Linked DNA regions of Homo sapiens. The protein of the gene in region 4 purifies or fractionates together with the protein of the main gene of each other region. This does not show direct contact. Each region holds a gene or a part of one and is shown on either strand. Other genes may lie near its edges.

The links.
Region 1: the proteins of AKIRIN2 (region 4) and RNF123 purify together in Homo sapiens (co-immunoprecipitation; 3 studies listed by BioGRID and IntAct, with this or other methods). This does not show direct contact.
Region 2: the proteins of AKIRIN2 (region 4) and IPO9 purify together in Homo sapiens (affinity purification with mass spectrometry; 4 studies listed by BioGRID and IntAct, with this or other methods). This does not show direct contact.
Region 3: the proteins of AKIRIN2 (region 4) and PSMB2 purify together in Homo sapiens (affinity purification with mass spectrometry; 3 studies listed by BioGRID and IntAct, with this or other methods). This does not show direct contact.

The regions. Positions count from the first base shown.
Region 1 is NC_000003.12:49,713,549-49,720,582, reverse strand, and holds part of RNF123 (E3 ubiquitin-protein ligase RNF123), read right to left. Parts: coding exon 6,996-7,034; intron 6,846-6,995; coding exon 6,758-6,845; intron 6,674-6,757; coding exon 6,586-6,673; intron 6,494-6,585; coding exon 6,409-6,493; intron 5,009-6,408; coding exon 4,869-5,008; intron 4,762-4,868; coding exon 4,573-4,761; intron 4,482-4,572; coding exon 4,406-4,481; intron 4,191-4,405; coding exon 4,106-4,190; intron 3,755-4,105; exon of another isoform or gene 2,633-3,754; coding exon of another isoform or gene 1,118-2,632; exon of another isoform or gene 899-1,117; intron 668-898; exon of another isoform or gene 73-667; coding exon 1-72. Other genes in the region: AMIGO3 (amphoterin-induced protein 3 precursor), read left to right, coding at 1,118-2,632. UniProt on the Homo sapiens protein: Catalytic subunit of the KPC complex that acts as E3 ubiquitin-protein ligase. Promotes the ubiquitination and proteasome-mediated degradation of CDKN1B which is the cyclin-dependent kinase inhibitor at the G0-G1 transition of the cell cycle.
Region 2 is NC_000001.11:201,881,150-201,884,818, reverse strand, and holds the end of IPO9 (importin-9), read right to left. Parts: 3' UTR 528-3,669; downstream 1-527. UniProt on the Homo sapiens protein: Nuclear transport receptor that mediates nuclear import of proteins, such as histones, proteasome and actin. Serves as receptor for nuclear localization signals (NLS) in cargo substrates.
Region 3 is NC_000001.11:35,638,517-35,645,519, forward strand, and holds the start of PSMB2 (proteasome subunit beta type-2), read right to left. Parts: upstream 3,011-7,003; 5' UTR 2,917-3,010; coding exon 2,826-2,916; intron 1-2,825. UniProt on the Homo sapiens protein: Non-catalytic component of the 20S core proteasome complex involved in the proteolytic degradation of most intracellular proteins. This complex plays numerous essential roles within the cell by associating with different regulatory particles.
Region 4 is NC_000006.12:87,699,226-87,706,372, reverse strand, and holds the start of AKIRIN2 (akirin-2), read left to right. Parts: upstream 1-4,139; 5' UTR 4,140-4,688; coding exon 4,689-4,923; intron 4,924-7,147. UniProt on the Homo sapiens protein: Molecular adapter that acts as a bridge between a variety of multiprotein complexes, and which is involved in embryonic development, immunity, myogenesis and brain development.

The DNA.
Region 1 (7,034 bases), on a different chromosome or scaffold from region 4:
CCCAGGAGATAGCATATTGAGCGTAGCTGGAAGCAGGGATCTGCCAGGAGCACTGATGTGGCTTGCTCTCTCCTAGGTAGGGGAGGGTGCAAGGGCAGTCAGAAGGCTTGGGGCCTGGCTAAAAGTCTCTCTTGGGATTGCCAATGAGGAGTGCCATGGCTCGTACATGATCACCCCCCCTGCATCCTTTCCGTCTCCCTGCTTCCCAAACCCCAAGTCCTGTATTCTAGTAAGGTGCCACACAGCCTGTTTTTTTTTTTTTTTTCTTGAGACGAGTCTCGCTCTGTTGCCCAGGCTGGAGTGCGATGGCACGATCTCGGCTCACTGCAACCTCCACCTCCCGGGTTCAAGTGATTCTCCTGCTTTAGCCTCCCGAGTAGCTGGAATTGCAGACGCCCACCACCACGCCCGGCTAATTGTTGTATTTTTAGTAGAGACAGGGTTTCACCAGGTTGGCCAGGCTGGTCTCGAATTCCTGACCTCAGGTGATCCACCTGCCTTGGCTTCCCAAAGTGCTGGGATTACAGGCGTGAGCCACCGCGCCCGGCCTGGGGTACCACTTTAAGAAGGCTCAGGCGAACCACCTTAAGATAGTGAGAGTCTGCCTGCCCCATAATATTATCAGTCCTTCAAAGTCACTTCAAATAAACACTAACAGCAGCTTGGAGACATTCTTCCAGACTCCCCCTTTTACTCCCCGAGGAAAAACGAGCGGCGGAGAGCTGCCAGCCAAAGGCTGACGGGGACTTTGGGGTTGGCCTTGCTCCCCATCTGGCGGTCATGCGGGGCCATTGGGCACAAAGGGATGTAGCCGCCCCGCCTCCTCAAACGGGAACCAATAGGAGCCCGGGCCCCGCCCCTGGGGGGAGTATTTAGGAGCCGATCAGGAACTCGCTTGGAGAGGGCTAGCGAAGCCGAAGGGAGCGCGGCTAAGAGTGCCGCACCGCCTCACAACCTGGGAACCGGAGAGTAGGGGCCGTCGGCTGGCAAGAACCCGCCGTGCCTCCTCGGCAAGGGCCATCCGGTGCCACCCATGTCGCACTAGAGCAGAAGAGGGTGAGTCCTGGAACTGCAACCTGCACAGAGCTGCTCTGTACTGTCCCTGGTGGTCGCCGCCATGACCTGGTTGGTGCTGCTGGGGACACTGCTCTGCATGCTGCGCGTTGGGTTAGGCACCCCGGACTCCGAGGGTTTCCCGCCCCGTGCGCTCCACAACTGCCCCTACAAATGTATCTGCGCTGCCGACCTGCTAAGCTGCACTGGCCTAGGGCTGCAGGACGTGCCAGCCGAGTTACCTGCCGCTACTGCGGACCTCGACCTGAGCCACAACGCGCTCCAGCGCCTGCGCCCCGGCTGGTTGGCGCCCCTCTTCCAGCTGCGCGCCCTGCACCTAGACCACAACGAACTAGATGCGCTGGGTCGCGGCGTCTTCGTCAACGCCAGCGGCCTGAGGCTGCTCGATCTATCATCTAACACGTTGCGGGCGCTTGGCCGCCACGACCTCGACGGGCTGGGGGCGCTGGAGAAGCTGCTTCTGTTCAATAACCGCTTGGTGCACTTGGACGAGCATGCCTTCCACGGCCTGCGCGCGCTCAGCCATCTCTACCTGGGCTGCAACGAACTCGCCTCGTTCTCCTTCGACCACCTGCACGGTCTGAGCGCCACCCACCTGCTTACTCTGGACCTCTCCTCCAACCGGCTGGGACACATCTCCGTACCTGAGCTGGCCGCGCTGCCGGCCTTCCTCAAGAACGGCCTCTACTTGCACAACAACCCTTTGCCTTGCGACTGCCGCCTCTACCACCTGCTACAGCGCTGGCACCAGCGGGGCCTGAGCGCCGTGCGCGACTTTGCGCGCGAGTACGTATGCTTGGCCTTCAAGGTACCCGCGTCCCGCGTGCGCTTCTTCCAGCACAGCCGCGTCTTTGAGAACTGCTCGTCGGCCCCAGCTCTTGGCCTAGAGCGGCCGGAAGAGCACCTGTACGCGCTGGTGGGTCGGTCCCTGAGGCTTTACTGCAACACCAGCGTCCCGGCCATGCGCATTGCCTGGGTTTCGCCGCAGCAGGAGCTTCTCAGGGCGCCAGGATCCCGCGATGGCAGCATCGCGGTGCTGGCCGACGGCAGCTTGGCCATAGGCAACGTACAGGAGCAGCATGCGGGACTCTTCGTGTGCCTGGCCACTGGGCCCCGCCTGCACCACAACCAGACGCACGAGTACAACGTGAGCGTGCACTTTCCGCGCCCAGAGCCCGAGGCTTTCAACACAGGCTTCACCACACTGCTGGGCTGTGCCGTGGGCCTTGTGCTCGTGCTGCTCTACCTGTTCGCCCCACCCTGCCGCTGCTGCCGCCGTGCCTGCCGCTGCCGCCGCTGGCCCCAAACACCCAGCCCGCTCCAAGAGCTGAGCGCACAGTCCTCAGTACTCAGCACCACACCGCCAGACGCACCCAGCCGCAAGGCCAGCGTCCACAAGCACGTAGTCTTTCTGGAGCCAGGCCGGAGGGGCCTCAATGGCCGCGTGCAGCTGGCAGTAGCTGAGGAATTCGATCTCTACAACCCTGGAGGCCTGCAGCTGAAGGCTGGCTCTGAGTCCGCCAGCTCCATAGGCTCCGAGGGTCCCATGACAACCTAGACTGCCCAGGGCTCCCCCACCCAGGCCCCCACCCTCTTGCTGCTCGCCCTGCTCCCTGCTTCGGTCCAGAGAACTGGCAGATACTGGTGGGAAGCACTGTGCCTGGCCCCCCAGCTTCCTGTATGGGCCTCGAAACACAATGGGCCTTCTCGCTCACTGGTAGAGACAGGGGTTGTGGTCCCCAACCTGCCTTCTGCTCTGCCCCTGCACAGGACCCAAAGGCCCCAGGCCCTGCAAGGTGTGCTAGTTCCTGCTTTCCCGCGGACTTCCTAGTGCCCAAATGCCCTGTGAGGCTGAGAGACCCAGGCCCCTGTGGCTTTCAACACAGCACAGCTGTGGAAGTGGCTGTGTTCTTCTACAGCCTGTGGAAGAACCCCTGTAGCAGAGCCTCCCGTCCACCCTCAGGGGCTGAGACAGCTCTCGAGGAGTGGTGCTCAAGAGCTGACGCAGGGCCACCTCCCCTTCCCAAGGGGGTGGGAGGGAGTGGGCCCACAGGGAAAAGAAGGCGGCTCTGAAGGAAGATCTCGCCCACACCCCAGGACAGAAAGAGGAAACAAGCCCGCCCTCTGGTGAAATGGGACTCCCTCCATCCACCAACACCCAACCTCCTGAAAGCTTCACAACTTCACGCAGAGTCCGGTGGGCAGGCACCAGGCAGGAAAGGCTCCTCAAGAGGTTCCTGGTGGTCTGGCCTAAGCCCCAGCCAGAGGCCCTGCTCTCTCTGGCCTGGGGCATCCACCCGTTGTTCTGAAGGCAGAGCCCATTCTGTGGGCTCACAAGACACAGTGAAGGGGATCATGGCCTGCACCCCTGCTTTTCAGCAGTAAAAAGCCCGAAAAGCCTGGCGAGCATGGCCGAGCTGGGAGGGCCGAGCCGGAACTCCACGTCCCTCGAGAGCAGGAGCCTCTTAAGGGCTGGCACTGGTCTCAGCCTAATGGCTGAGGCGGTACCCTGGCTTCATATGCATCTCACTGCTCCCACTGCAGGGGGGCAGGGAAGGGGGGTCTGGGAGCCCTTCATGTGTGGGGGCCGAGCTGGGGGCCCCCATGGCCATCCTGGACCTCGCTGCTCCAGAGTTTAATAAAGGTAGCACATGCTTATTGCTAGAGCCTTTGCAGACAATGGCGGTCCTCCGTGTGTTCAGCTCTCCTGGCGGCCTGGCCCTGTCCACCACAGGACGGCACACCCTCCGGAGTCCTGCCTCCCATGCCTGGCCTGAGGCATGGCCACAAGCCAGTGGCTCTGTGGGCCAGGGCCACCTGTCCTGCTGGGGTCCCAGATTCTCCTACTTAGAGCAGCTCCGTCTGCCCCCTATTTAGGCCGTTCACACCTCACCACCTTCCCTCTGCCTCAAAACCTGATGCTGAGGTCCATTTTCCAGATGAGGAAACTGAAGTACCAGGAGGCCCTGTCCAGCCCCTCCTCACCAGACACACCCAACTCCCACAGGGGCCCACGGTCCCCAACACTCACTCTGAGGCTGGGCCACGCACCAGGAGCTGCACCAGGATGCCCGTCACTGCCACCAGAATGGGATAGTGGTCCACGCTCTCTAGGCCTGAGGGGAAGGGGAGGAAAGAGATGAGCCACCCACATGCTCCTGCTTCAAGGGCTCCAGGCCTGCCCACTGCCCTCTCTACAGAAGGGTGAGCCGAGACTGCAGAGCACCAAGTCTGGCTGTCCGGGGGCAGAATGTGGAATCAGGCCTCACTGTTCCTAGCAGAGGAACCGAGGCCTGTAGTGTGTTGGGGTGCAGGGCATCTAGGTCCTCACCAGGCAGCCGTAGGGTGACCACACGATCAAACAGGTTCCTCTCAGCTGTCACCCGGTTCAGCACCTGGTTTAGCAGCTGTGAGGGGAGCAGGAGTCCATTGGTGGATGGGGAGCGTCATCAATGGGGCATCCCCAGGGTCCCACCCTTGTTGCCCAGATGGCCACACCTGTGCAAGACGCCGCAGCAGCATCTCAGAGGTAGGCCGGGTCCAGTCAAGGAATATCTCAGGCACCAGTGTGATAGTCATCTCCAAGACACGCAGCAGGCTGACCGAGAGGTCAAAGCAGGTGGCACATACCTTGAGCTGCCGGCTGTCCACAAAGTTCCGCTCCAGGCGCTCAGCAGCCTGCTGGATCTGAGCCACCAACACGTGGGCATGCAGTGGTCAGCACCTGGCTCTAGCCCAGGACCAGGCCTCATCCCTTGCACCACCCTAACCCACGAGGCCCCACCACAGCCCACCTCTTGGATCATGCCAATGAATTCAGAGAAGGCCCAGTTGAGCTGATTGAGGACGCTGTTGAGGAAGCTGGGTGCCACATCAGGACCCTGCTGTAGGAGGTCCGCCATGTGCTGCTGCAGCAGGGTGGAAGGGCAGGGCTCTGCAGGGGGACAGGAGGCGGCATCATCAGGGACTCCACTGCAGTGGCCTCTGCCTGTTTGCCTCTGTCCTCGCCCATTGAGGCTTTGGTATAAGGACAGAAAGATGGCTCCCTAGGAATGCTCAGGTCATGAAAGCAGGGGACAGAGGACAGCTGCCTTGGAGTTAGTTGGGACAGAATCTGTCCCCTCCTTCTACTAGGCAAGCCCCAGGCTGCAGCTGTGTCCAGCCCTGACACCACACCATCCACTCCAGGTCCAGAGCAGCCACACAGCCACAGCCTGACCCTCAGCAAGTTCTGGGTCGCACACCCTTCAGATAGGGTCAGACCTAAACAGGGCGGCTTAGATGCTTCCCCACCGGCACCAAGGCCAGCTCCTCCAAGAGCCTACTCTAAGCCCTGCTGCAAACCTGCTGTCCTCTACTGTCCTCTGCTGCCCTTGGCCTGGCCTTGGCATATGGCCGAGGTGGTGGGCACCAAGTCTGGGCTGGCAGGCAGCAGTAACCGGAGCCCTCAGCTGCAACGGGCCTGGCGCACCTCCCCACCAGCTTGATACAAATCAATAGTTCCCGCAGCAGCAGGACAGGCCTGGCCCCACTGCCGCTCTCCACTTGCAGCTCAGTTCCGCCCTGGACGCAGGACCACGGCAATTGGCAAGGACTTGCTGTGTGACTTAGCAGAAGACACTCAGCCTCTCTGGGGACACCCTTTGGACCAAAACACTGCCCACAAGGGCAGAAACAGACTACATGAGCCAAGAAGAGCCACCATGAAGGGTGAGGACAGTGTGTGGCACACCTGGCACTCTGCAAGGGCCAGGCCTAGGGGAAAGTCCTTGCTGGACCCTGGAGAGAGGGCACAGCCTCTGCTCCCAACTAAATGTCCCTTCCTCCAGGAACTCTCGTGAATACCCTCTGGGGACCTGGCCAACCTCCAATCTGTGCTCCCAGTGGACTCAGGTGTCCAAGGCCTAAGCCAAGGCCAGGGTCTGCCACCAGCAGATAGCAAAAAAGAAGCAGAAGGACATGGTGCTGGGACAAGGCTGGAGGTCAGGGAGCTAGCTTAAAGGGCAAGGGACAGAGTATTCAGTCTGCATGAGCTGTAGCAGGCCAGGAACATGGTGCCGCCTCTCACCATGACCCACATAGAGCATCCAGGCCCAAAGGGCACATGTAGGTAAGACTGTGGGCAAGGCTGGGGAGGGGGAGTCCCATCCCGAGTATCCTTGGGCTGGAAGGAAGCAGGGAAAGTGGAAACCCCAGGGGACACGTAGGGAGTCTGGGACCCAATGGGGGAACCAGAGAGGGGCTGGAAGAAGTGGAGAGTCTGAAAGAACCCATGGGTAGGAGGTAAGCGCCCCCGCCTGCCTTGCCCAGGACTCGCCCAACCCAGATACTCACTCTGGAGGCTGGGCAAATTGGCGTCCTCAAGTTTGGTTTTCAGCAGATGTGGCAGCCGTGTATAGCGGTACCCGAAGCCACAGCCCTGTGGAGGTGGGGGTCAGTGCCCAGGTCAATGGGACAGCGCACCCTCTCCCTCCAGCCAGCCTCAGCCACTTCCCCTCGAGTCAGGCTTACCCTCCAGAGCCGCACCAGGATCCAGTTGGTCTGGGCCCAGGGCCGCTGCTCATAGGGCGCCAGGAGGTTCCTCACCATGGCGATACGCCTGTGAGGGCAAGGAGGGGAGAGACGGGGTGAGGCTGGGCATGGTGCTTGTGGCCAGGGTGTGTGCCCCCCAGGCCCCACTCACTGCTCCTCGGGGATTCGCTCCACAGCCCGCAGGGAGTGTGGGTAGCACACGTAGCTGGCCAGGGCCTGCATCAGTGAGTCTCGGATGTCTGCGGGGACACACCGTGCCTCAGCAGGGGCTTGGCATGAGCCCTGGACCCATACTTCATGCCCACCTGGCCACATTTTTCATAGAAGAAAGCCGACCAGAGGTGCCATCCCATCCCCCTCCCCCTGTACCCTCTGTAGGGGCCCCTCACCAGTGCCCACAATGCGTGCGTCGGCAAAGTGTTTGGCGA
Region 2 (3,669 bases), on a different chromosome or scaffold from region 4:
GGCTGGCTTGGATGGCAGCTGTGAGCAGCCCCCTACTCAGGCACACTCTGGGTGGCTGTGGGAGCAGCAGCAGTCCCAGGCAGCCAAGGCCTGGCCTCAGGAGCCCAGCCCAGCCAGTGGGGCAGATGGTGAGGGCCAGGTTATCTTTAAATGGCACCTTACTCAGCCTGCCACTCTGCCAGTTGGGCAGGATGGCGGTAGACAAGTGTTATTTTGGGATCTGAGGGCAAGGGAGGAAGGCTCTGTTTATAGCTCTCTCCTTTCTGAACCTACTCTCTCTCCTGGGGAGGATTTGGGGCCATGGGCCTCAGCCCTCCAGCTGACCCTTTCCAACCTAAGGTTTCTGTTTTCAGCCTAGCTGTTAGCCATCTGCACAGATGGGAGTGTTGAATCTACAGAGGCACAGGGTTTCTCAGAAAGGCCAGCTCTGTAAAGGCAGGTTTAGGTGGTGACAACTGCATTAGACTTGGGATCAGACTAATAATAGGTAACATTAACACTTACTATGAGGCAGCACTACGAAGTGCTTTGTGTTATATTAACTTTATTTAATCCTCACAATCACTCCATGAAACAGATAACTAGTATTACACTTGTTCTGTGGATTAGGAAATGGAGACATAATTTAAGCAGCTTGTCCAAAGTCACCCAACAGGCAAGTGGCAAAGCCAGGGTTCAAATCCAGGCAGTCTAGCTCCGGAGCCCATGCTCTGAACCACTAACTAGATATGAGTCCTGCTCTGCCACTTACTGGTTCTGCAAACTTGAAGGAACCACTCCCCCTCTGGTCTTGGCTTCCTCTTTTGGAAACGGACTACCGTTCGGTTCAACCCACTAGAATCCCCAAGTTAGAACTGGCAGAGACACTCTGATCCATTGTGTCTCTCTCCCTGTTCAAGGGAAAAAGAACTTACTCAAGGTCACACAACCGGGCACTGGCCCTAGTTTCTGTGCTCTTGCTGTGAACCTCCCTGTGGCAGGGATGAGTCAGCGGAGCTGACGAGGGATATTAGTTATGAATTTGCAATCACAAAATCAGGTGTGGAAGAAATACATTTATTTTCTTTTAACCAAAATAGATGAGAATGAGTCTCTATCCTGCTACCTGGTTTGTTGTTATTATGGTTTGTTCCCCTCTCCAGAATCACGAAAAGGTCCTGGGGTCTCACACAGTGCAAAACATTGAGGTGAGCCCTCTAAGCCTTGGTCTGCACAGGTTCTGCTCATACATGCTCTTAAGCTTGCAAATTCAGAAGTGTTGGTCTGTGTGCCCCAGGTACAAGAGACCTTCCCAGGGAGCCTTGGTGACCAGGGCCCAGCATCCCTGGGGACTCCATGCAGCCTTTTCCCTAGGAAGTTCTATCATCTCCAGGTGCTTTGCCACAATCAGGGCAGGAGTCTCACCGCTCATAGGCCCCGTGGACTTTTTTGTCCCCTACTTATCTTTTGGAAAACTACCCCCCTTTTTCTCTCCCCTTCTTCCTCCGGGACCCTGGGCCTAATTGCAGTTCACTAGAGCTTTCACCATAGGGTCCAGAAGCACAGCTATTCTCATGCAGTCCTGCTGTCCACCCTACAAAAGCAACTAAGGCAAGGAAATGCAAAGAATTCAGGTATGTTCTTGGACTAAGTTGTTGGGGGGGGGGGAATCTAGTGAAAGCAAATTAATACACCGATAGTTTATGTCACACAGCTAACCACAGAAAAACTGCTTAGTAGGTGGAAGGCAAGAGCTGGGCCTACCACCTGTTTCTATCATGTTCCTCAGGCAGGGCTGCAGTGCTACAATTCATTCCTCAGAGCTGTCCTCCCAAAGGCTCACCAAGACCCTAATTTAGCAGCAGCATGTGTGAAATTGAACTGAGTCACAGTGTAATCCAGTGAGTCAGGAAGAATGAGCCAAACATAGCTCCCAGCTATGGGTGGGGGATAGGATGGGACATCTTCCACCACTAGAGGTGCTTTAATGAAGTCATCCTTAATTCTAACTACAATCCTGTGAGGTAGGTATTAGTTCCCTATTTTACAGATGAGGGAACCAAGGCTTGAAGGAAACGTCACTTGCCGCAGCTATGTAATCATGCCAAGTCAGAACAACTCAAGCCTGGGAGGGACTTCTAGGCCTCCTAGTCAGGCCAGTAGTTCCTCATTGCTTTTCTTCCTACAGCACATTTGCTACCATATCATGTATTCTACACAGGTTTAAAAACCCTAGTATACTTTTCAATTTTAGGAAGCCAGCAGTAATGCCACCCTTTTCCCAGTTACTCAAAAAAGGAAAAAACTGGAATGTAAGTGTCATTAGATGGCAAATGTTGACCTGTACCATCCATTAGGGAAACTTAAATTCACAAAACTTGTTTTTTTTTTTGTTTTTTTTTTTTTTTGAGGCAGAGTGTCGCTCTGTCGCCCAGGCTGGAGTGTAGTGGCATGATCTTGGCTCACTGCAACCTCTGCCTCCCGGGTTCAAGCAATTCTCCTGCTTCAGCTGCCTGAGTAGCTAGGATTATAGGCATGCGCCACCATGCCCAGCTAATTTTTTTGTATTTTTAGTAGAGACGGGGTTTCACCATGCTGGCCAGGCTGCTCTTGAACTCTTGATGTCGTGGTCCGCCTGCCTCGGCCTCCCAAAGTGCTGGGATTACAGGTGTGAGCCACTATGCCCGGCCTACAAAAATTGGAATTTTATTGCGATTACTTTTGGGTGCTTTGCTACTGGAATCTTGGTAAAGTATGGTTAAGACCTAGTCTAAATCCCCGTGAGAATGGGGAATTTTCCCGTGACTGCTAACTAAAGGTCTAGCCTCTGATCGAGCACTTGGATTGATGAGGAGGAACTCACTGCAACATTTTAAGACAATTCATTCCACAGCTCTCACTTTTGGAAAATCCTTACTTGTCAGTCTTTAAGTCCTACTGACTTTATCTTGTCAACATCTCTAATCCAGCTCTTCCACCCTATCCCCTCTAGTTACAACCTTAGTTCAGGCTCTGGGTTTTCCCACCTGGACTGCTGTAGCTGCTGCCAGACTGCATTCCTTTCTCCCATCTCCCACCCCTTCAATCCAGGTTCCAAGTCACCCTTCTAGTCACATTTGCATCAACACTGCAACACTTTTCTAAGACACAAAACCTGATCACTTCCCTGTTTAGTTATCTTGGGTAGTCTCCCATTCTCTAGAGGAAGCAGGTCTTGAAGGATCCTTCACAATCTGCCCCCCACTTGTCCTTCCAGCTTTATTTCTGGCCAGGACTCCCGTGAACTTAAGCATAAATATCAGTACTTGTAACGTGCTTATAAGGTCTGAAAATGAAATTGTTTCATGACGGCCTTTTCTTACTTTTTCTCTGCAATGTCTTACCCCACTCTCATCTGCCTGGCAAATGCACAGGAAAGGCAAAACAAATAGGCAACAAGTACAAGCTGCTTGGACTATAATCACACACTTGCAGGGTGACCTTTGATAGGTTAACAATATCTGTCTGCTTCAGTTTCATCAATCTGTAAAACTGGGTGAGCAAAGTGGACTACTTTGTAAGGTTAGTAGGTGGTCTGAGGTAAAAGTATTTAGCATACCCACTGGCGTTTAAATACTCCAGAAGCAGGTATTGTTAGCTCCTTGCAAGTGTTCAAGGGTTGCCTTCTCCATGCAACTTACCCGACTTCCT
Region 3 (7,003 bases), on a different chromosome or scaffold from region 4:
AATGTTAATAATATGACTTACCCCTGTCTAACTCACAAGTGAGAAAAACTAATGAATTCTATACATGTCCAATATTATGATACTCAGTGTTAGATAATGTAGTTCGGATTATACATGCTATAGGAATTCAGAAAAGAGAGAATTCTGTGTGGGCTGGAGTACTCCGAGTAACTTAAAAGCAATTCTACATAGGCCAAGAGAAAAGAGACATGAAATGCGGCATATAAGCAAACCAAAAGTTATACCACTTAATAAGGTGGCAATCCTCAGCAAATGTCTACTCTATAGTATCAAAATGTTTTTACAAAGTGACATACTGGACAATTGATTGGAAGTTGTATTATCATTTTATACTTGGAGAAAGGAGTCCCAGAAGGTTACTATTTTTTCAGCATTCTTGCCTACTCTAAACAAGCTCCATCGTGAAATGAATGATTAGAAAAAAGTCATCAGACGGCTGGGCACGGTGGCTCACGCCTGTAATCCCAGCACTTTGGGAGGCGGAGGCAGGTGGATCACCTGAGGTCAGGAGTTTGAGACCAGCCTGGCCAAACTGGTGAAACCCCGTTTCTACTAAAAATACAAAAATTAGCTGGGCATGGTGACGGGCGCCTGTAATCCCAGCTACTTGGAAGGCCGAGGCAGGAGAATCGCTTGAACCCAGGAGGTGGAGGTTGCAGTGAGCCGAGATCGCGCCATTGCACTCCAGCCTGGGTGACAGAGCGAGACTCTGTCTCAAAAATAAATAAATAAAATAAATAAAAAAGTCATCATACAATACTAAAATTTCTATTATAATTTGTTTTATACCAGAAAAGACTATAGGGAAAATTGGAATGTGCAGAGTGCAACTATTTCCAATTATTTTTCAAGAACTAACTCAAATTCATCTTTCTCCCATACCATAGTTATCTTTCTTTTATTACTCTTAGGATTTGCTCTTGAACTCATTAATTTAAAAACCAACCTACTACTAACTAGTAATACTTCTTTTATTATATAAAATCATCTTGCAGCATTTATTTCCTTGTTTTCTTAATGTCTTGGACTCTTCTATGGGTTATAAGTAATATACTGCATCCCCTATAATGACTAAAAGTACTGTGTACATAAGTAGGCTTAAAGCACATTCTACTTTTCAATGTGATTTCACATACATTTGGGATGAAACAAAAGACCTGTAAAGATAATGATTATTGTTCTACCTAGACATGACTTAATGTTAAAATCACTTGCTTGTCAAAGACCTTAGTATTCAAAATAATGGACAAATTTACTCTCAAAACAAATTCACTCCTTTGGAAGGACTGGCTTACAAACAAAACTTCTACAAACTAATCATAGAATTTCATAAAGTATAAGGTGCTATGTTAAGTGATTTACATTAATTCATTAACCTTTTGAGATAGGTGCTATTACATTACCACCTTATAGATGTTAGCTCTAGGGCACGGAGTTAGAGAAATTTGCTTAAGGTCACAAGTGGCAGAACCTGGGTTCAACCTATGCAGTGAGTCCAGACATTTTGCCCCTAAGTACTATAATATACTATACTATACTATACTATACTATACTATACTATACTATCTATACTAAATTACTCAATACATAATTTTAAGAAGATTTTGGTTGTTTTTCTGCAGAATCTAAGTTTGTTTTCCTTAACTGATCAAAGACGTGCTACTGTTGAAAAAGTATTAAGCTTTGGTTCAGATGACTTAATGGTCATTTGACAAATATGTTTGGGCACCTACGTACACTTAGTATTATTAAGTACCTGCCTAGTGCTAAGGATTTGCACATAACTCATTTACTAAATCCTCCCGACAAGTTTGTGAGTTTGGTATTGCTAATCTTAAAGATGAGGAAATCTGGGCACTGCAAAATAACTTATACAAACTCATAAGGCAAATAAATGACAGGGCTCCAATCTCTTAACTCCATTAACTACTTAAATATAAGGAAAACCTGGCAGCCATTGCTCTGGAAAACTGGAAAAGAAGAATCGGGAGCCACGGGAAGAAGGAAAATGCCAAGCTTCTGGTCCCACAGTCTCACTCTCCCCAGGATCCCACCTTATGCCGCCAACAAACTAACCTCATTACTAGCGACACCAGGAAACTTATCAGAGATTCGGGGATCTAGAGAGCCAGTCCCACAGTCTCACTCTCCTCAGGATCCCACCTTATGCCGCCAACAAACTAACCTCATTACTAGCGACACCAGGAAACTTATCAGAGATTCGGGGATCTAGAGAGCCAGGCTCTGGGCAGGCGCTTAAACATTTATAAACTGATTCCCTTTAGGCAACTCTCACCAAGCAAGAAGCATTTAGCGAAGGCCAGAGCAGAGCACTGACCCAGGAGCCCTGGAGGAGCAAATGCCAAGGTCCCAGACCTGTCTGCCTGTTTCGCCTGTAATCCCAGCACTTTGGAAGGCCGAGACGGGCGGATCTCCTGAGGTCGGGAGTTCGAGACCAGCCTGACCAATATGGAGAAATCCACATCTCTACTAATAATACAAAAATTAGCCAGGCGTGGTGGCGCATATCTGTTCCCAGCTACTCGGGAGGCTGAGGCACGAGAATCGCTTGAACCCGGGAGACAAAGACTGTGCTAAGCCGAGATCGCGCCATTGCACTCCGGCCTGGACAACAAGAGCGAAACCCCTCTCGAAAAAATAAATAAATAAATAAAATAAGTACGGGCAGGGCAGGCCGGCTTCCATCTCTCAGATCCTCCCTGGTACTTATTCAACCCCCGACAAACTCCTTCTGGCCGCTCCTACACCCCAGGCCTGGCCGGGCCTCCCCTGCTTCCTCTCACCGTCCTTCATCTGGACAATATTGCTGGCGGCCACCCGGTCGGAGGCGACAAGAACATAGTCGGGGCCTTGGATACCGATGAGGTACTCCATGGTGGCGGAAGGCCAGGGGCTGCAGGTCCGACACAGCACGAGACTCGCCCGCTTCCAGGTCTCACCGGTGAGACAGCACCTCAGAGCGAAGATTGGCGCGACGCCTGCAGCACGACTTCCACGGCGCTCTCGGATGACGTACAACTGTCGCGAGAGGTTGCAAAGCGGGCGCGGCGCCGGGTGCCTTATGTTCAGTGCTTGTCTCTGGGATCGTACGGGTCTCCTCCGGAGCAGGCTGTGCAGGTCACTTGCCTTATGTGACGCCCAGTTTCTCTGTTTACACACTAAGATTTTAAAAGTGGCTTTAGGATAAAATCACGCAGTGTATGTAAGGTGCCGAGCACGTGTGGGTGTCAAAAAGGGGTAGGTAGCCAGGCAGCCGTTTCCCTACGTTGCTCGGTAAAATCTCCCCAGAAACCCCTTTCCTGCAAGCCAGATTGGAGAAAAATTAACTTGAGGGGAGCCTTACTTCCATCCTTCACAAAAATAGTATATGGTTGGATTAAAGATATAAGCATGGCCGGGCGCAGTGGCTCACGCCTGTAATCCCAGCACTTTGGGAGGCCAAGGCAGGCGGATCACCTGAGCTTGGGAGTTCGAGACCAGCCTGACCAATATGGAGAAACCCCGTCTCTACTAAAAATACAAAATTAGCTGGGCGTGGTGGCGCATGCCTGTAATCCCAGCTACTCTGGAGGCTGAGACAGAGAATCGCTTGATCCCTGGAGGCGGAGGTTGCGGTGAGCACTCCAGCCTGGGCAACAAAAGCGAAACTCCGTCTCAAAAAAAAAAAAAAAAAAAAAAAAAAAAAAAAAAAAAAAAAAAAGAGAGGGAGAGAGATACAAACATGGAAGAAAAAGTAGAAAAATATTTCTGTAATTTTTGGAAGAGATGTGTTTCTAAGCTTGACAGGGAACCCAGAAGCAATATGAGAAAAGACTTGACAGATTTGACTACCTAAAATTACACGTCTCTATGTGGTGAAAGTCATTATCATGCTCAACAGTAAATGTAAATTGGGAATGTTTCAATTGTAGAAATAGTTACTATTTTGGACCTTATAGACAGAAGAAAGGAAAAAGTTAATATCTATAACTTAAAAGATATTCCTACAAACCAATGGGAGGGGAGCCGGGTGAGACAATACCATTTTTAAAAGACCCGGCAGGGCACGGGGGCGGATCAAGAGGTCGGGAGTTCGAGAACAGCCTGGCCAATATGGTGAAACCCCGTCCCTACTAAAAATACAAAAAATTAGTTGGGCGTGGTGGCAGGCGCCTGTACTACTCCGGAGGCTGAAGCAGGAGAATTGCTTGAACCTAGGAGGCGGAGATTGCAGTGAGCCGAGATAGCGCCCCTCCACTCCAGCCTGTGCAACAGAGAGACTCCATCTCAAAAAAAAAAATAAAAAATAAAAAAAGACCAAAGACTAAGAAAAACAATTCACAAAAGAAGCAACACGAATGGCCAATAAACATGAAAAGATCCTCAACCTTGATGGTAATTAGGAAAATGGGAAATAAGAAACAATGAGAAAGTATAAATTGGGGGTAAGGTTCTAAGTTGTACAACCTTTTTATAGAGAACAATTTTAATATCTGTTAAATATGCATAACCTTTTGAATATGTCCAAAAGAAATGTTTGGACACACAGTCCAAATATTTGTGTACCGAGATACTCAGTGTTGCCAGGGGCAGTGGCTCACGCCAGTAATCCTAGCACTTTGGGAGGCCAAGACGAGCGGATCACGAGTTCAGGAGTTCGAGACCAGCCTGGCCAACATGATGAAACCCCGTCTCTACTAAAAATACCAAAATTAGCTGGGCGTGGTGGTGCGGCACCTGTAATCCCAGCTACTGGGGAGGCCAAGGCAAGAGAATCGCTTGAACCCGGGAGGCAGAGGTTGCAGTGAGCCAAGATCACACCATTACACTCCAGCCTGGGCAACAGAGCAAGACTCTCTCTCAAAAAAAAAAAAAAAAGAGAGAGAGATATTTAGTGTTGCAGCACTACAACACAAAAGAGGACCAACTTACGTGTCTAAAAGTGGAGACATTGTTGGGCCGGGTGTGGTGGCTCATGCCTGTAATCCCATCACTTTGGAAGGCCAAGGTAGGTGGATCACGTGAGGTGAGGAGTTCGAGACCAGCCTGACCAACATGGTGAAACCCGGTCTCTACTAAATACAAAAAATTAGCCGGGCGAGGTGGCAGGCGCCTGTAATCCCAGCCACTTCAAGAGGTTGAGGCAGGAGAATCGCTTGAACCTGGGAGACAGAGGTTACAGTGAGCTGAGATCGTGCCACTGCACTCCAGCCTGGGCAACAAGGGCAAAACTCTGTCTCAAAAAAAAAAAAAATGTAGTACAGTCATAGTGGAATATTGTGCACCCATAAAAAGAATGAGATGAATCTAAATATACCTATATATTCCATGGCCCAAGATACATTAAGTGAAAGTAAAAATGCTTTTTTATATGTAGCCTGATGCCATTTTGTTTAACTATGAATATTTGAATATGAATGGAATACCTGTAAATACCTGTTTACAGGTATTCTAGTGTCAAATTATTTGCATTTATTACCCTGGTGAGTGTAATTTGAAGGGAGAACTTTCACTTTTTATTTTATACACATGGGTATTGTTTGAATGTTTTACAGTGCTCATGTACTATTTGTATTTTTTCTAATAGAAAAAAAAACAGCCATCCCTTTATATCTTGAAGCAATTCTGAAAAAAAGGTGAAATATTTCTTGATTGGGTTTCTGACATCCACAACTGAGTCTTCATACTAGCTTATTGAGAAATGGGAAACGAGTTGCAGTTGTATCTCCAAACACAACTATGCAATTCGTTTGTCTCTGCAGAAATTGTAATACTTTATTCTGAATGTTTCTTCCAGCTCCCTGCACATAAAGGAACACAGAGCCTGAGGAGTTTGAGGCAGCCTATCAATCATGGGATGGATGCCAGGGGCAAGTGAGGTCATTAAGTCAACCATCCACTATGAACACAGCTGCATCCATCACTCTAGAAAGATTGTTTTCTTAAATACCACTTGGAGGGGGGAGGTCTCTCTCTCTCTCTCTCTCATCCTCATTGTGTGTGTTTGTGTGTTTTTTTAATTGCAAAAAGTACATAGTTATACTATATATACACACATACACAAACAATATAGAAGAAACAAAGAGTTAAATACCTTTCCTTCCGCCAAAGGTAACCACCCACTGAATGTCTGTATCCTTCCAGACTTTTCCTTTGTACATACCAATATTCATTCATTCACAAACGCTGCAGATTTCTGAATTGGAAGATCCACAGTATTTTTATTATTATTTTTAAGGACTATCTTTTAAGCTGATTCATCCTTCTTTCTTTCCAGGCTTTTTTATTTTTATTTTTATTTTTTTGAGACAAAATCCTGGGTTCAAGTGATCCTCCTGCCTCAGCCTCCCAAGTAGCTGCACTACAGTCACATGACACCACACCCAGCTCTCCCTAGGACTTTTTGAAATCTGCTTTAGCTAAGTAGCACTAGAGCTGCCCTCATTTCTTGTTAGTATAGAAGAAAGTAGGTTTTCAAGACCTAGCTTGTGCTGTGTCACTCTCCTCCAACTAAAGTCTTAGAATAACTGAGTCTTAGAATTAGAAGTCTGTGGAGGTTCACAGAAGTAGCATAATGTAGCCAAAATATTTACAGATAGTAAATATTTTTGGCTTTGCAGGTCATACTTTCTCTGTAACAACTACTAACAACTAACAACTGCCATTACAGTGAGAAAGCAGCCATAGACAATACATAAACAAGAGAGCATGGCTGTGTTCCAATAAAACTTTGCTTAAAAAACAGGTAGGGGAAGGGGGAAGGTGGGCTTGGCTCATGGACTATAGTCTGCCTCCCTGATATAGTGGAAGGCCTGTAAGTCAACACCCAAGTGTGGTCCCAGCTTTACCTTTTTCAGCCTTGTTGCAAAATTCGTTTAGCCTTCCCGAGCCTCAATTTTCTTATTTATAAAAGAGGCATTCAGAAGAGAGGTTTGCTTTGTGTTTCCCTTGAGATGGGACAAAGACGCAGGTCTGTTTGGTT
Region 4 (7,147 bases):
AGGCATGAGTCACTGCCCTCAGCTCTTTTTCCTCTTTAGTACTTCCTTCCCCCCGTCTCCCATCTTAAGGTCTGCTGTCTTTTTCTTCTTGATCAACAAAATAAATTCATTTTTCAAATATATTGTGGTGGCTTACACTTGTAATCCCAGCACTTTGGGAAGCCGAGGTGGGAGGATGGCTTCAGGCCTGGAGTTCAAGACCAACCTGGGCAATGTACTGAGACCCTGTCTCTACAAAAAATTTAAAAATTAGCTGGGTATGGTAGTGCAAGGTTGTAGTCCTAGCTACTTGGGAGGCTGAGGCAGGAGGATCACTTGAGTCCAGGAGGTCGAGGCAGCAGTGTGCCTTGATTGTGTCACTGCACCCCAGCCTGGGTGACAGACCAAGTCCCTGTCTCTAAAAAATAAAAGTAAAATATACTATGTCATGACTTACGGCTTTTAAGTATTATCTTTATTTTCAAGTTTAGCCTAATAAATACTTTTGTAGGTTTTTTTTTTTCAACAGCTTCCTTCTACTCTAAAAGGGTTGCTATAGTATTTTAGCAGATCTATAAAGGAACAAGGATAATGTGGGCTACTGGGGATAGTGTGATAAAAAATGTTTAAGAAATATTCAGTGGACATTTACTGAAGCGTGCAAGGTATTATACTATTGGTAAGGAGCTAACACAATGACAGGAGAGGCAGATTCATGAACAGAATTTTATTGCAGTGTGGTGAGGATAATGATGAAAATATGCAGATAGGTGTCTCTTTCTCTGTGAGGCTATAAAACTAACTTGGCTTTGAAACACTGCGGAGGGCTTCCTGGAGGAGTTAATGCCTGGCTTGAGTCTTAAAATATAAGTAGTCAGGCAAGAAGTGTGGAGCAGAGAGCCTAAGCAAAGACATAGGTGAATAGGGAAGGGTCTCCCTTGTCTTTTTAGTTTCTGAAGTAGCTTCCTGAGTCATTGGTAGAAGGGGAGGCACCCCAGCCCTGTCACTGTTTAATCTTGACAGCCTTTTGCAAATATACTGTGCAGCGGTGACCACACAGGCAACTATTATGACTAAACTATCAAGTTTACCAGATATCCCCCACCACCTTTAAGTACAACAACACTTTGCTGACTGGGTGCAGTGGCTCGGCCTGTAATGCTAGTCTGTAATGCTAGCCTGTAATGCTAGTGGGAGGATCACTTGAGGCCAGGAGTTTGAGACCATCCTCGGCAACTTAGACCTCTGTCTCCACAATTAAACAAAAAAATACTTTCCTCATTTTCTAGGCATTCTGGTATATTTCAAATGATAGCCTGATAACCACAATCCTCTCTGTATTAGTTTCTTACAGTTGCCATAACAAAGTACCACAAACTGGATGGCTTAACCTACAGAAATTTATTGTCTCATGGTCTAGAGAATACAACTCTGAGAAGGTGTTTTCAGGGTTGGTTCCTTCTGAGGACTGAGGGAGAACAACTTCTCTCCTAGCTTCTGGTGTTTTGCTGGCAATCTTTGGCATTCCTTGGCTTGTAGAAGCATCACCCTAATCTCTATTTTCATGTTCATGTTCATGTGGGTCAAAATTCCCTTGGGCCCATGCCTGGGTTCAAATTCCCACCCCCACCCAGTCTCCCCTTCACCCTGGCCTTTTTTTCTTTTCTTTTTTTTTTTTTTTTTTTTGAGACAGGGTCTGGCTATGACACCCTGGCCGGAGTGTGGTGGTGTGATTACAGCTTACTGCAGCCTCAACCTTCTGGGCTCATGCAATCCTCTCACCTCAGCTGCCCCGAGTAGCTGGGACCACAGGTGACCACCACCATGCCTAGTTAATTTTTTAAAAATTTTTGTAGAGATGAGGTTTCTTATCATTGCCCAGGCTAGCCTCAAACTCCTGGCCTCAAGTGATCCTCCCACCTCGGCCTTCCAAAGTGCTGGGATTACAGGTGTGAGCCACCGCACCTGGCCCAAATTTCCTTTTTTGTATAAGAATACCAGTCATATTGGATTAGGGGCCCATCCTACTACATTTAGCTAATTACATTTGAAATAATCCTATTCCTAAGTAAAGTCATATTCTAAGGTACTGGAGGTTAGGACTTCATATGAATTTTGAAGTCCTTGAATTCCCTCAAACATAGGGAATTTAACTCACAACATCACATTTCAAATGTAGGTTTTATAACTTATGGGCAAATCTTAATTTCAGAAAATATTACCAAGTGTTTAGAATTTACTAGAAATTTACCTAGTAGGTGTCTTAGTTAAGCTGCTGTTTCATTAAATGCTTATCTTTTTCAAAAGATTTTCCAAATGTAGGAAATGTAGGATATTTCCAAATATCCTAAATTAAAACTAGAAGGGCTTACTTGTTGACACAGTGTGATCAGGACTGCTGATCTCTGAAGCACTGGACAATTCTATAAAATTGTCTATAAAAAAGAATATATTGAACTACTTCTAAATATGGTTTAAAAATAATAGACAAAATGGCTATAAAACATCTGTTACTGAATAAAGAAGAATACATGAGCACTGGAAATCAGTATTTATAATCATTTGACAGTTGGCATTCACAAAATTGTTTCATATTGCACTGGTGATAGTTTCTACATATATCACTTTTTTTTTTTTTTTTTTTTTTTGAGACGAAGTCTAGCTCTGTCACCCAGGCTGGAGTGCAGTAGCTTGATCTTGGCTCACTGCAACCTCCGCCTCCCGGGTTCAAGCGATTCTTCTGCCTCAGCCTCCTGAGTAGCTGGGACTATAGGTGTGCGCCACCACGCCCGGCTAATTTTTTTTATTTTTAGTAGAGACAGGGTATCACCATGTTGAACAGGCTGGTCTCGAACTCCTGACCTCGTGATCCGCCTGCCTCGGCCTCCCAGTGCTGGGATTACAGGCGTTAGCCACCGCGCCCGGCATCATTTTCTTTTCTTTTCATTTTTTTCAGACAGAGACTCGCTCTATCACCCAGGCTGGAGTGCAGTGGCAACATCTCGGCTCACTGCAACCTTCGCCTCCCGGGTTCAAATGATTCTCCTGTCTTAGCCTCCCGAGTAGCTGCGACTACAGGCGCGCGCCACCACGCTCGGCTAATTTTGTATTTTTAGTAGAGACGGGGTTTCACCATTTTGACCAGGCTGGTCTCGAACTCCTGACCTCAGGAAGATCCGCCTGCCTCGGCCTCCCAAAGTGCTGGGATAACAGGCGTGAGTCACCATGCCCGGCTACACAGATCACTTTCTAAATTAGCGCTGTATTTGATTCTTATTTTAGGTATGTGACTAAAAGTACAACTTCTAGAAACACTTTTTTCCCCTTCCGCTTACAAAATGGATCCATCCAATATCTATTACCTAAACATTTCACTGTCTTTTGATTAGTTTTGTAACAAAGTTCACAATATATGCACCAATATTCAACAGAAGTAATGCAATGTCTGATACCACTTGCTTTTTACCCAACGCAAAACAATTTGATTCTGTAAGTCGTTCAAGTCCTATTCATTTACAGAAGCAAAGCTGGCTTTACAGAATTTCATTAGTGGATGAAGCAGCTACCTCCGAAGGGTAGAGCATCGAGTTGAATCAAGGATCCTGTAACCTGATACTATTACTGTTGTTCTGTCTGCCAGTCCTAAATAGGTTTCATAATCTCATTATCTCCTATCCTCTCCATGTGAAAGGTCTTGTTTTGGGTACTGTCGCTACCGAAATTAAGCTAACTTTGACTAGAGATTGGTTTATTATATTTCCCAGATCTGAAATCACTGTGGGAGCAACTATACGGAGAATCTTAAAAGATTTCTATGTCGCTTAGCCTGCTTTTGCCACGGGTTCGCTTTCCCATCTCCCACTGTCTCAGAACCTTCTCTTTTTTTCTCTTTTGCTTAGTTCCTCTTACACTCAAGCTGTGTAGGGGGATTTAAATTCCAACCCGGAACTCGGAATCGCGCGCCTTGCATGACGGAAGTCGTAGTTTCTGTGACTCCTCCCTTCCCGCCTTTCAAGCCGATTCCTCCCGGTACCTAAAAACTACAACTCCCAAAATGCATCCCCGGTTTGGCCCGCCCCCGTGCGCAAGCGCTCTGAGGCCGCCGGATTTGAATCGGCGGCGTTGTTATTGACGCCATATTGGGGCCGGCGGCGGGTGGGAGAGTTCTACGAGGGAGGGGAAGCGGTTGGACGTGTTCGCTTGGGTTCCTGCTGCGGCAGCTACCTCGCAATCTCTCTGCATCGATCGCCGCTCGCAAGCTACTGACCGTACTCGGGCGTATTAGGAGCCGCGTTCCAGCCTCACACCCCACGGTGCTGTTTTCGACTTCAGAAAGGATCTAGTCTCAGCACAGAAGCGCCTCAGGCGCGGCGCAAAGCTCGAGCGGACGGCGGGGGCGGCCGGAGCCTCTCTCGGGGGAGCCGCGCCTGAGGAGGCGGAAGAACCCCCCTGACGCGACTGGCGTGTGCTTCTGCCCGCCACCGCCCCTCCCGCTCTCACCCGGGCCGTCCCTGGCCACTGCCCCTGCCGCGGAGGCAGCGGCGGCAGCGGCTCTCCTTTCCACAGCCGGCGCTCCGCGACCCGCTTGGCTCCTGAGCCCGTCGGGTAGGCTCTCCTCGAGTTCCCGCTCTTCACCCCTTCCCTCACCCTCTTCTTTCGTCACCCGTCCCCGACCCCACCCGAGCCCGGCGCCTCAGCTGCCCCCGGCCATGGCGTGCGGAGCCACTCTGAAAAGGACTCTGGATTTCGACCCGCTGTTGAGCCCGGCGTCCCCGAAGCGCAGGCGATGTGCGCCATTGTCGGCGCCCACCTCGGCCGCTGCCTCCCCGTTGTCGGCGGCCGCGGCCACCGCCGCCTCCTTCTCCGCTGCGGCCGCCTCGCCGCAGAAGTATCTCCGAATGGAGCCATCCCCCTTCGGCGACGTCTCCTCCCGCCTCACCACAGGTGGGACCCGGCCCCGCGGCCGCCGGGGTAGTGGAGAGAACTGGGAACAGGGGTCCTGGGGTGTGGGATGCGGCCCCTGGGGTGGGGGTGCCGGACTGTGTGGTTCTTGTTCTTAGCAAAGTAGTAGGGCAGCCACGTTTTTCACTAGGTCCTCGTAGCCCGAGGACCTAATAAGACACAATAGAAATGGGCTGATGTCAAGGGGATAGTGTTTGGAGGTGGGTAGGGGCTTTGCCTTGCCCGTATTGGGTAGAACAGGGACATCTTTTTCTTTGGGCCGAATGATTGGAATTGTTTCCGTAGTCGCTGGAGCCCCAGCGGAAATGATCAGAGAGGACGATATTATTCGTAAATTTAGGCGAAAGGGTCACATTTCACCCCAATCTGGATGTGTGCTTGCCGTAATCGATTGGTTGCAGCTATTAACTCTGGGACTGGGTGGTTTGAGGCGAGGCTACAGCCCCTCCTTCAGTTCAGACACGGCTGATTTTAGTATAGTGGGGGTGGGGGGTGGGGGATGGATGTCACTAGGGCGAGATCTAGGCCTGTCATTAATCACCCACAAGAACGCCACTTTGGCTGAGTCAAGACCTGTTTCCCTAGCAGGGTCAACAACAAAGAAAATGCTCTTCCCGAGTACTGTAATATGATCACACTATAAGTCTAGACCTTGAGAAATGTTGAACTTTTAATAAGCATATTGCATTGAAAATTGGGGCTGAGGAGTTGCTTTTATTTGGAAATGTTTTATTTTTGCCCAACAAAGTATGCTGGGGGAAAACAACCTAGCCTTGAGAATAATGAAGAAATCAACCCAAGATTCCAAGGGACTTCAGACTTTTGCTTTTCATCTTGAAACATTTCCTGAGAGAGACTGGGGAATGTCTTTTGGCTGCTTTGTAGGGCATGTGTATGCCCAGTTTTTTCTGTACTTTGAAATCCTTGTGTGCCCCTGGCACAATCCTAGGATAGGCTTTTGTGGACTAGAAGTGTAAATGTTTCCTTTGTGTGTAGCATGCAAAGATTTCTGTGTGAGCCTTTAGTAATAATATCACCCTTTAGACAAAGCCTTTCCATAGCTTGATTTAAATGTCTCGTTATCAGTAGCTTAAAAAACCGAAGTATATACCTCTGTATTTGGTGACTTCCATTTGAAACTGACTTTAGTGTTTTTTTTTTTTTGTCACATTTAAAAATATTTTCTAAATCCATGGAGTGACCCTCGAATATGCAAGCTACCATTTTTGCTATTAAATATTTGGTCTAATTTAAGGACATACTGTTTTAGAGTTGTAGTGAGTTTTTACGGAAATTCTTAGATAAATTTATTTAATGACCTTACTAAACTGTGTTTTAATTAGATTGAAAAGGCATTTGTTGATTAATTGTTAGGCTTTACTTTGGGAAAAAAAAAAGGAAACAGCCAATGTCAAGAATGAGCTACTGGTGGTTGACATTTTTGGAATTTGTCTTTTAGTGAAATGGTATCATTGGAAATTGAAATGGATTCTGTACTTAACTAATAAAGCCATTTCAAAATAAGGTCATTAAGGAGCTAACCAGCAATACATTTCAGTCGAGGGAGTGAATTAATACAGTGCTAGGTTTGGGAATTAAAGTACTATATCTCAATGTCAAAATAATCTTGGGCATGTATGTGAACAATTGGGGACTATACCATGTTCCTCCCCTTTAAAGCACACTTATTCAGAATTGTGATCCTTTGTAAACGACTTTTCATTGGCATATCTGTAGCGTTGGTTAATACAGTTGGCTCCACATTATCTCAAGTTTAAATTAATTGGACTGTTGTAGTAAAACGACTGGAATTATTGGAATTGTTTAAGCCAGCTGATTGAGATTCACATTCACTTTCCAAAATACTGCTATTTTCTTCAAGGTGTTTTTTTTTTGACATCTACTTTGGAAGTTTGATTATATCCTGAAACCTAAAATCACATCCTTATTGATTCTGAGTCTGCTAAAAGTTATTTCCAAACTAATTTGAATATTATCGCAAAAAGTTTACTTGAGAAAACAAGTTGAAATTGAAATTTTGACTTGCTAAAATTACATTTTTTAAACGGTAGTTTTGAATGACATTCTAAATGTAATTTAGTTTGACTTTGTGTTTATATGGCCAATTTGGGGTATGGTCCTGTATGTTTTTTGTAATGTCATAATGGGAGCTGCAGTGTTGTGCAGGTATCAAAGAGCTTCCCAG